Regions from separate parts of the Homo sapiens genome. Here all the other regions are linked to region 1. Evidence: fine-mapped expression QTL. A gene starts in region 1. Each other region holds a variant in brackets. All regions are shown on one strand. Distances are from middle to middle. Region 1 holds the start of SPIRE2 (spire type actin nucleation factor 2). Region 2 overlaps FANCA (FA complementation group A). Region 3 overlaps ZNF276 (zinc finger protein 276).

Evidence for each region. PIP is the estimated chance that this variant, and not a neighbour inherited with it, causes the effect.
Region 2: its variant is fine-mapped to the expression of SPIRE2 in whole blood (TOPMed, PIP above 0.99).
Region 3: its variant is fine-mapped to the expression of SPIRE2 in whole blood (TOPMed, PIP 0.92).

The regions. Positions count from the first base shown.
Region 1 is chr16:89,826,860-89,829,701 of GRCh38, reverse strand. It overlaps SPIRE2 (spire type actin nucleation factor 2), which reads right to left and starts at 1,227. Exons shown (of 15, transcript NM_032451.2): 1 at 908-1,227. The coding sequence starts at 1,151. RefSeq lists a silencer at 1,084-1,173.
Region 2 is chr16:89,767,338-89,769,837 of GRCh38, reverse strand. FANCA (FA complementation group A) reads left to right here. Exons shown (of 43, transcript NM_000135.4): 26 at 1. Among named protein-coding and RNA genes, the nearest start is that of ZNF276, 47 kb to the right of the region's middle. The variant T/C (reference allele first, on the strand shown) is at 1,487.
Region 3 is chr16:89,724,488-89,727,329 of GRCh38, reverse strand. It overlaps ZNF276 (zinc finger protein 276), which reads right to left. Exons shown (of 11, transcript NM_001113525.2): 5 at 1-51. Among named protein-coding and RNA genes, the nearest start is that of ZNF276, 4.4 kb to the right of the region's middle. The variant C/G (reference allele first, on the strand shown) is at 1,574.

The sequences.
Region 1 (2,842 bases):
CAGGACCTGGTGAAGGAACAAGGGCCCTTGGGTGGGGCACAACGGCCCCCACCCCTCGTGGCTCTGTAGCTTGCTTCTGTCTGGCCTTGCCCTGGCCCTTCCTGGTCCTCCACATAGGCCTGCTCATGCAAACCCACAGCTCTCAGGCCTGGAGAGAGTGCGGCAAACACACAGCCTGCCTCTGCCCCCCGGCAGGGTACCAGCTTTTGGGGTCATATCACATGCTCCAAGCCAGCACTCCAGCTCTCCAGGGAAGAAATCACTTTCGGTTTTTTTCGTAAAGGGTAAATAATCACTTAAGCTCACCATTCTCACTAACTTCAAGTATCTTTCTAGGGCTTAATTGTTGGTTCTGGTTGATGGTTAAGAATAGAAACACCAAGCAGGTTGTCCCCCCAACTTTACACACCCCTTCCTCTCCCAGTTAAACCCAGGAATTTAGTGTCAGTTCAGACGCCAAGTGAGGCGCAGCCCCCCACCTTCCACCCAGGAGAAAATGCCCCAAGGGGACGCTTCTGTCTCCTTTCCTGCTGAAGGCAGGGGAGGAGTCGCCCCAGCAAAGGCCAGCTCCGTGCTCCCTGAGCCACCGGCCCAAGTCCCTCTCCCGGAGGAAGCCAGGCCACTGGGGAGCAGCCCGCTCCGCGCTGGGAGAGGCGTCAGGTGGGGGGGTCCGGGAGGGGAACGTCCAGGGCCGGGGAGGGAGAGGAAGGAGGGAGAGAAGGAGGGAGGAAAGAGAGAGGGAAAGAGGGACGGAGAGTGGGAGGGAGGGAGCTCCGGGTCCCGCAGAGAAGGGGATCTCCCGCTCCAGAACCGGTCGCAGCCTCTCCGCCGGGACCACCCCCACCCAGGGGGCGGGACGGACGCCCCAGACCGCGGTCCCCGCCGGCTGCCCCGCCCCCGGCCTCACCCGCGGCCTCGGGCTCCCGCGCCCCGACCGAGCCGTCCCCGCGCAGCAGGAGGTCCCCGGTATCCCGCAGGCGCCGGCCCGGCGAGCCCCGCAGCCCGCGGCAGCCCTGGAAGCACACGGCCCACGCCTGCTCCTCGTTGAGCGGCTGCTCGTAGGCCTTCAGCACCTCCTCCAGGGACAGCTCCCAGGGCTCCGGCCGCCCTGCGCCCGCCGCGGCGCCGCCGCAGCTGCCCGCCCGGGCCATGGCGGGGCCGTCATCGCCTCCCGCGCGCCGGACCCGCGTCCATGCAGCCGCGCCTTCCGCCGCGCAGGGTCAGCCTGGCCGCCCCGCCCCGCGCGAGCGCCTCAGGTTGGGGGCGGGGCGGCGACGGGGGCGGGGCGCGGAGGGCGCGGGGGGCGGGGCGCGGAGGGGGAGGGACGCGGGGCGGGGCGGGGAGTGGAGGGCGCGCGGGGAGAGGCCCGGAGGGGGACGGGTGAGGGGCAGGGCGGGGCGCGGGTAGGTGCGGAGGGGCTGGGGCTCAGGGCTGGGGACGCGGGGGCGCGGGGCCGAGGCCGGGGTGCGAACCCCTCCGGGGTGCTGGGCAGGACCGGGGGGAGGGTTGGGGGCTGCAGACATGGGCCAGGGCCCGCGCGCTCGGACACGCGGTGACACCCCCGGCGCTCCCCCGCAGACCCAGACGGCCGATGCCCACAAAAGCCCGGGCCGGCATCCAGCCCGGGACACTGCGGTGACCGCGGGGGGCCTGGGAGGTTTGCCGCTGGGAACGCGGGAGGGAGCCGGGAGGAGCTGAGCAGACAAAGCCCGCAGTGGCCTCCCCGAGCCCCGGGCAAGGTGACCTCCAGGGGTTGTCGCAGGGTGGCTGGGGTGAGGGCGACTCCCCGCATCCGGCCTTCGGGTATGAAGCCCTTAATAAATGCCTCTGCCTAGCAGGGAATGTGCCTGCAGTGACGTCTCCAGGGTGTCCGTGAAAAATAAACACACACGGTTGGCCAGTGATGGCGTGCATCGCATTTGGGGCGTGTTTGTGTCTTCAGGCCGGGTCACTCCTGGACACTGGGTGTTTGCCTGAGGGACGCAAGGGGAACTCGGCTGGGGCTCATCCCGAGGCCTCTTCATAGTTGTGCCAGATCTGAATAAGTGGGCAAGAAAATGCAGTTGGGGCATAAACGGTCCCAAGCCTGGGTGCTGCCAGTACCACCCGGGGGCAAGAAATGCAGATTCCTGGGCTCCAGGGCTGGAGATTCTGATGCAGGTCCGAGGTGAAACTTGGGGCACTTAAAGTTCGCTGGTCTCCCAGGAGTTCTGGACCTGCCTGGACAACACAGTGAGATCCCATCCCAGAAAAGAAGTTCCACAATGATTTTTTTTTCTTTTTTTTTTTTTAGAGACAAGGTCTCACCCAGGCTGAAGTGCAATGGTACAATCGTAGCTCACTATAACCTCAAATTCCTGGGGTCAAGTGATCCTCCCACGTCAGCTTCCTGAGTAGATGGGACTAAAGGCATGAACCACCACGCCCAGCTGATTGTTTTTATTTTTTGTGGAGATGGGATCTCACCATGTTGCCCAGGCTGGTCTTGAATTCCTGGGCTCAAGCAGTCAGGCCACCTTGGTCTCCCAAAGTACTGGGATTACAAGCGTGAGCAACCGCGCCCAGTCCAGCTGGACTTTTCTTTTCTTTCCCTTTCTTTTTTTTTTTTTTGAGAAGGAGTTTTGCTCTTATCGCCCAGGCTGGAGTGCAGTGGCGCAACCTTGGCTCACTGCAACCTCTACCTCCCAGATTCAAGCGTTTCTCCTGCCTCAGCCTCAAAGTAGCTGGAACTACAGGCGCCCACCACCACACCCGGGTAATTTTTTGGGTGGTTTCGCCATGTCGGCCAGGCCGGTCTCGAAATCCTGACCTCAGGTGATCCCCCTGCCTCAGCCTCCCAGGG
Region 2 (2,500 bases), 60 kb after region 1:
AGTGAGCTCTTCTTCCACAGTCGCGTCTTCTCTCCTCTCTCTCGAAAAGTGACACATGCTCGTTTGATAAAATTAGAAGAGACAGACATGCAGACATACCACCCAAAGATAACCACTTTTTAGCATTTTGGTATATATCCTTCCAGAATTTTATCTGTCATTTGTTTATAATATGCGTGCGTTTGTTTCTTTGTTCATAAAAATGAGATCATATTATACTAAACTGCTGAAATTAATAGTAGATAGTAACTGTCTATATCGTTAAGCATTCTTTGATGTCCTGGTGAGAGCTGCTTTGTTTTGTCTTGGTCCCTTGTCTGGCCCTTGGTTGGACCAGCTCCCTCTGGTCAGGTTCTTCGGCACCCCATGGTGAGTAGCTTCCCAGTGTGTACACCTCGGGCTGTTTCTCTAGGGCTCAGCAGATGGGGCCATGTGCTGAGGTGAGGAAGGACCCTGTGGTTAAGAATGGTCTGCTCAGTGCCTCAAGGGCTCCCTGCAGCTGCCACGCACAGGCAGAAGCCAGGACAGAATCCCTTCAGCTGCCACTCAGAGGCGGAAGCCAGGACAGAGGGCTGGGAGACTCTGGTGGGAGTTGCTGGCTGGGGCTTGGCTTGTAGCTTCTGGTCTCTTGGGCAGAGGTAGCCCAGGTCGGGACAGAGCCCTGTTGCGGTGCCGGAGACCCTGTGCGGGAAAGGGGAGATCTGACATTATGACAGGGTCTGAATAACAGAGAACTTAGAAGAGGCGCAAGAAATGTACGTGGAGCAAGGAGAGGGAGTCAGATGGCAGCTGTGCGGATCCCACACCTCAGACATGGGCCTCGGGGAGCAGGCACTCGGTACTCCGGGGATACAGAGTCCCTCCTAGGCGCTTGGCCACACCAGACAGTCCCCACTCACCCCAGGCCCCAAACACTGAGTACTGGGTGTTGGCATGAGAGGCACACAGCCAATGGAGAAGTTGGGAGCTGGTGAGGAGGGAGGCATCCAGGTGGCTTGGGGGAGACAGGGCCATCCTCTCTTAGAAACACAGAGATGCCTCAGGATATATATCCAGGTGAAGAAAGCAAAATACTGAACTCGGTCTCAGATGCTACTTTTTGCATAAGAAAGGGAGAATGAAATATATATTTGGTGTGTGTTTTGTTTTTTTTTTTGTTTTTTGGTTTTTGGTTTTTGTTTTGAGACAGAGTCTCACTCTATCGTCCAGGCTGGAGTGCAGTAGCGTGATCTTGGCTCACTGTAACCTCCGCCTCCCGGGTTCAAGCAGTTCTTGTGCCTCAGCTTCCTGAGTAGCTGAGACTACAGGTGTGCACCACCATGCCCAGCTAATTTATGTATTTTTAGTAGAGATGGGGTTTTGCCATGTTGGCCAGGCTGGTCTTGAACTCCTGACCTCAAGTGATCTGCCCACTTCAGTTAGGATTACAGGTGTGAGCCTCCACGCCCAGCTCAAATATGTATTAGTAAAACAGAAGTATTAGAAC[T/C]GTAAGAACACCATGACAGTGCTTTGACATCTCCATTGCCTCATGGAATCTCATTCTGAGCTTCCTTGGTTACAAGTGAGAATTTTTCACATGGGTATTGCTGTAGGTATGTATGTTGAGTAAATGACACAGGTCTCACTGTGTCCCCCAGGCTGAAGTGATCTTCCCACCTCAGCCTCCCAGTAGCTGAGACCACAGGTGCACACCCACACACCCAGCTAGTGAGAGATGGGGTCTCACTGTGTTGCCCAAGCTGGTCTTGAACTTCTGGGTTTAAGTGATCCCCTGAGCTGTGATTGTGCGACTGCACTCCAGCCTGGGCATCAGAGTAAGGCCCTGTATAAAACAAAAAATAAACCGAGGGCTGGGCCAGGCACGGTGGCTAACGCTGTAATCCCAGCACTTTGAGTGGCTGAGGTGGGCAGATCACTTGAGGTCAGCAGTTCGAGACCAGCCTGTCCAACATGGGGAAACCCCGTCTCTACTAAAAAAAATTAAAAACTCGACTGGTTGCAGTGACTCATGCCTGTAAGCCCAGCATTTTGGGAGGCTGAGGTGGGCGGAGCACGAAGTCAGGAGATCGAGACCATCCTCGCTAACACGGTGAAACCCCATCTCTACTAAAAATACAAAAAATTAGCTGGGCATGGAGGCTGGCACCTGTAGTCCCAGCTACTCGGGAGACTGAGGCAGGAGAATTGCTTGAACCTGGGAGGTGGAGGGTGCAGTGAGCCGAAATCGCACCACTCTACTCCGGCTTGGCAACAGAGCAAGACTCCCTCTCAAAAAAAAAGCACTAACAACAACTACAACAGAATCAGCTGGGCATGGTGGGAGATGCCTGTAATCCCAGCTACCTGGGAGGCTGAGGCAGGAGACTCGCTTGAACCCGGGAGGCAGAGATTGCAGTGAGCCCAGGTGGTGCCACTGCACTCCAGCCTGGGCGGCAGAGCAAGACTGTCTCACAACAAACGAACCAAAAAACGAAGGACCAATGCTCAGGCCATCCAGTTC
Region 3 (2,842 bases), 100 kb after region 1:
TTACCCGATCATCCGAGGTTGAAGATGGAAGCTGCTTCTCACCCAACTGCCCTGAGAAACAAAGAACAAGGCTCCTGTTACCAACACGGAGCACAGAAAGGTCTCACCTGCAAGGAGGCATGATTCTACTATTGATGACTAGAAGGGAGACTGGGGTCCCTGACCCTCAAGTTCTCCCCACCATGGCCCCATCCCCACCAAGGGTGCTATGCAGCCTCTGATCCTGCCCTGCCAGCCCAACGTCCAGAAGCACACAGGCAGCAACAAGCATCAGAACCCTCAGGAACAGCAGAACCAGAAAGCCCAGTCCTTCCACTGACTCCGATCCAGTCCTTCTAGGACAGCCTGGACTTGGTGGATGTTCTGAGACATTTAAAAAATTACTAGGCCAGGCACGGTGGCTCATGTCTGTAATCCCAGCACTTTGGGAGGCCGATGCAGGTGGATCACGAGGTCAGGAGATCGAGACCAGCCTGGCCAACGTGGTGAAACCCCATCTCTATTAAAAATACAAAAATTAGCCGGGCATGGTGGCACACACCTGTAATCCCAGCTACCTGGGAGGCTGAGGCAGAAGAATCGCTTGAACCCGGGAGGCAGACATTGCAGTGAGCCGAGATCGCGCACTGCACTCCAGCCTGGGCAAAAGAGCAAGACTCCGACTCAAAAAAATAAAATAATTAAAAATTACTATTCTCAGTCCGGGTGCAGTGGCTCACGCCTGTAATCCCAGCACTTTGGGAGGCTGACGCGGGTGGATCACAAGGTCAGGAGATCAAGACCAACCTGGCTAACATGGTTAAACCCCGTCTCTACAAAAAATACAAAAAATTGAGCTGGGCGTGGTAACTCATGCCTGCAATTCCAGCACTTTGGAGGCCGGGGTGGGCGGATCACCTGAAGTCGGGAGGTCGAGACCAGCCTTACCAACATGGAGAAACCCCATTTCTACTAAAAAATACAAAAATAGCCAGGCATAGTGGTGCATGCCTGTAATCCCAGCTACTCGGGAGGCTGAGGCAGGAGAATCGCTTGAACCTGGGAGGCAGAGGTTGTGGTGAGCTGATATCGTGCCACTGCACTCCAGCCTGGGTAACAAAGAGTGAAACTCCTTCTCAAAACAAATACAAATACAAATACAAAAAAATTAGCAGGGTGTGGTGGCACAAGCCTGTAATCCCAGCTACTCGGGAGGCTGAGACAGGAGAATCACTTGAACCCAGGAGGCAGAGGCTGCAGTGAGCCGAGATTGTGCCACTGCACTCGAGCCTGGGCGACAGAGTGAGACTCCATCAATAAATAAATAATACTGTTCTCTCGGCCAGGCCTGGTGGCGACAGAGCGAGACTCCATAAATAAATAAATAAATATTACTGTTCTCTCGGCCAGGCCTGAAGGTTCATGCTTATAATCTCAGCCTTTTGGGAGGCCAAGGCAGAAGGATCACTTGAAGACAGAAATTCAAGACCAGCCTGGGCAAAAGAGTGAGACCCTGTCTCTACTTAAAATAAGTTTTCTTTGTTTTGTTTTTTTCTTTTTTAGACAGAATCTTGCTCTGTCGGTCAGGCCAGAG[C/G]GTAGTGGTAGAATCTCAGCTCACTGCAATCTCCGCCTCCCAGGGTCAAGCGATTCTCCTGCCTCAGCCTCCCAAGTAGCTGGGCCTACAGGCAACCACAGCCACATCCAGCTAATTTTTTGTATTTTTAGTAGAGATGGGGTTTCACCGTGTTAGTCAGGATGGTCTCGATCTCCTGACCCCGTGATCCGCCTACCTCAGCATCCCAGAGTGCTGGGATTACAGGCGTGAACCACTGCACTTGGCCTAAAATAAGTTTTAAAAAGTATTGTTCTTGGCTGGGCGCGGTGGTTCACACCTGTAATCCCAGCATTCTGGGAGGCTGATGCAGGTGGATCACGAGGTCAGGAGTTCAAGACCAAGCCTGGCCAACATGGTGAAACCCCATCTCTACTAAAAATACAAAAATTAGGTGGGCGTAGTGGCGCGTGCCCATCATCCCAGCTACTCGGGAGGCTGAGGCAGGTGGATCACGAGGTCAGGAGTTCGAGACCAAGCCTGGCCAACATGGTGAAACCCCATCTCTACTAAAAATACAAAAATTAGGTGGGCGTGGTGGCACGTGCCCGTCATCCCAGCTACTCGGGAGGCTGAGGCAGGTGGATCACGAGGTCAGGAGTTCGAGACCAAGCCTGGCCCACATGGTGAAACCCCATCTCTACTAAAAATACAAAAATTAGGTGGGCGTGGTGGCATGTGCCTGTCATCCCAGCTACTCGGGAGGCTGAGGTAGCGGTGAGCCAAGATGGCACCACCGCACTCCAGCCTGGGCTACAAAACGAGACTCTGTCTCAAAAATAAATAAACACATAGATAGATAGATAAGTAGGTAAATAAATAGATAAATAGGTAGATAAGTAGATACATAGATATACAGATAGGTAGGTAGATAGAGAGAGACAAAGAAGTAGGAAGATAGATAGGTAGGTAGGTAGATAGATACACAGATAGATAGAATTGTTCTCAACACACTGCATACAAGTTTACAGAGCCAAGCAGCTCTAAGATGTGACACTCACAATCCCGTTCCTACCTGAGGCCCCCGAGCCGCACTGTCTCATCTGTGCACCCGTATCTAGCTAAACTATCTGGGTAGCTGTGTTTCTGTTTGGGACAGAGTCTTGCTCTGTCACCCAGGCTGGAGTACGGTTGTGCGATGTCGGCTCACTGCAACTTCCGCCTCCCAGGCTGAAGTGATTCTCGTGCCTCAGCCTCCAGAGTAGCTGGGATTACAGATGCCCACCACCATACCTGGCTAGTTTTTGTATT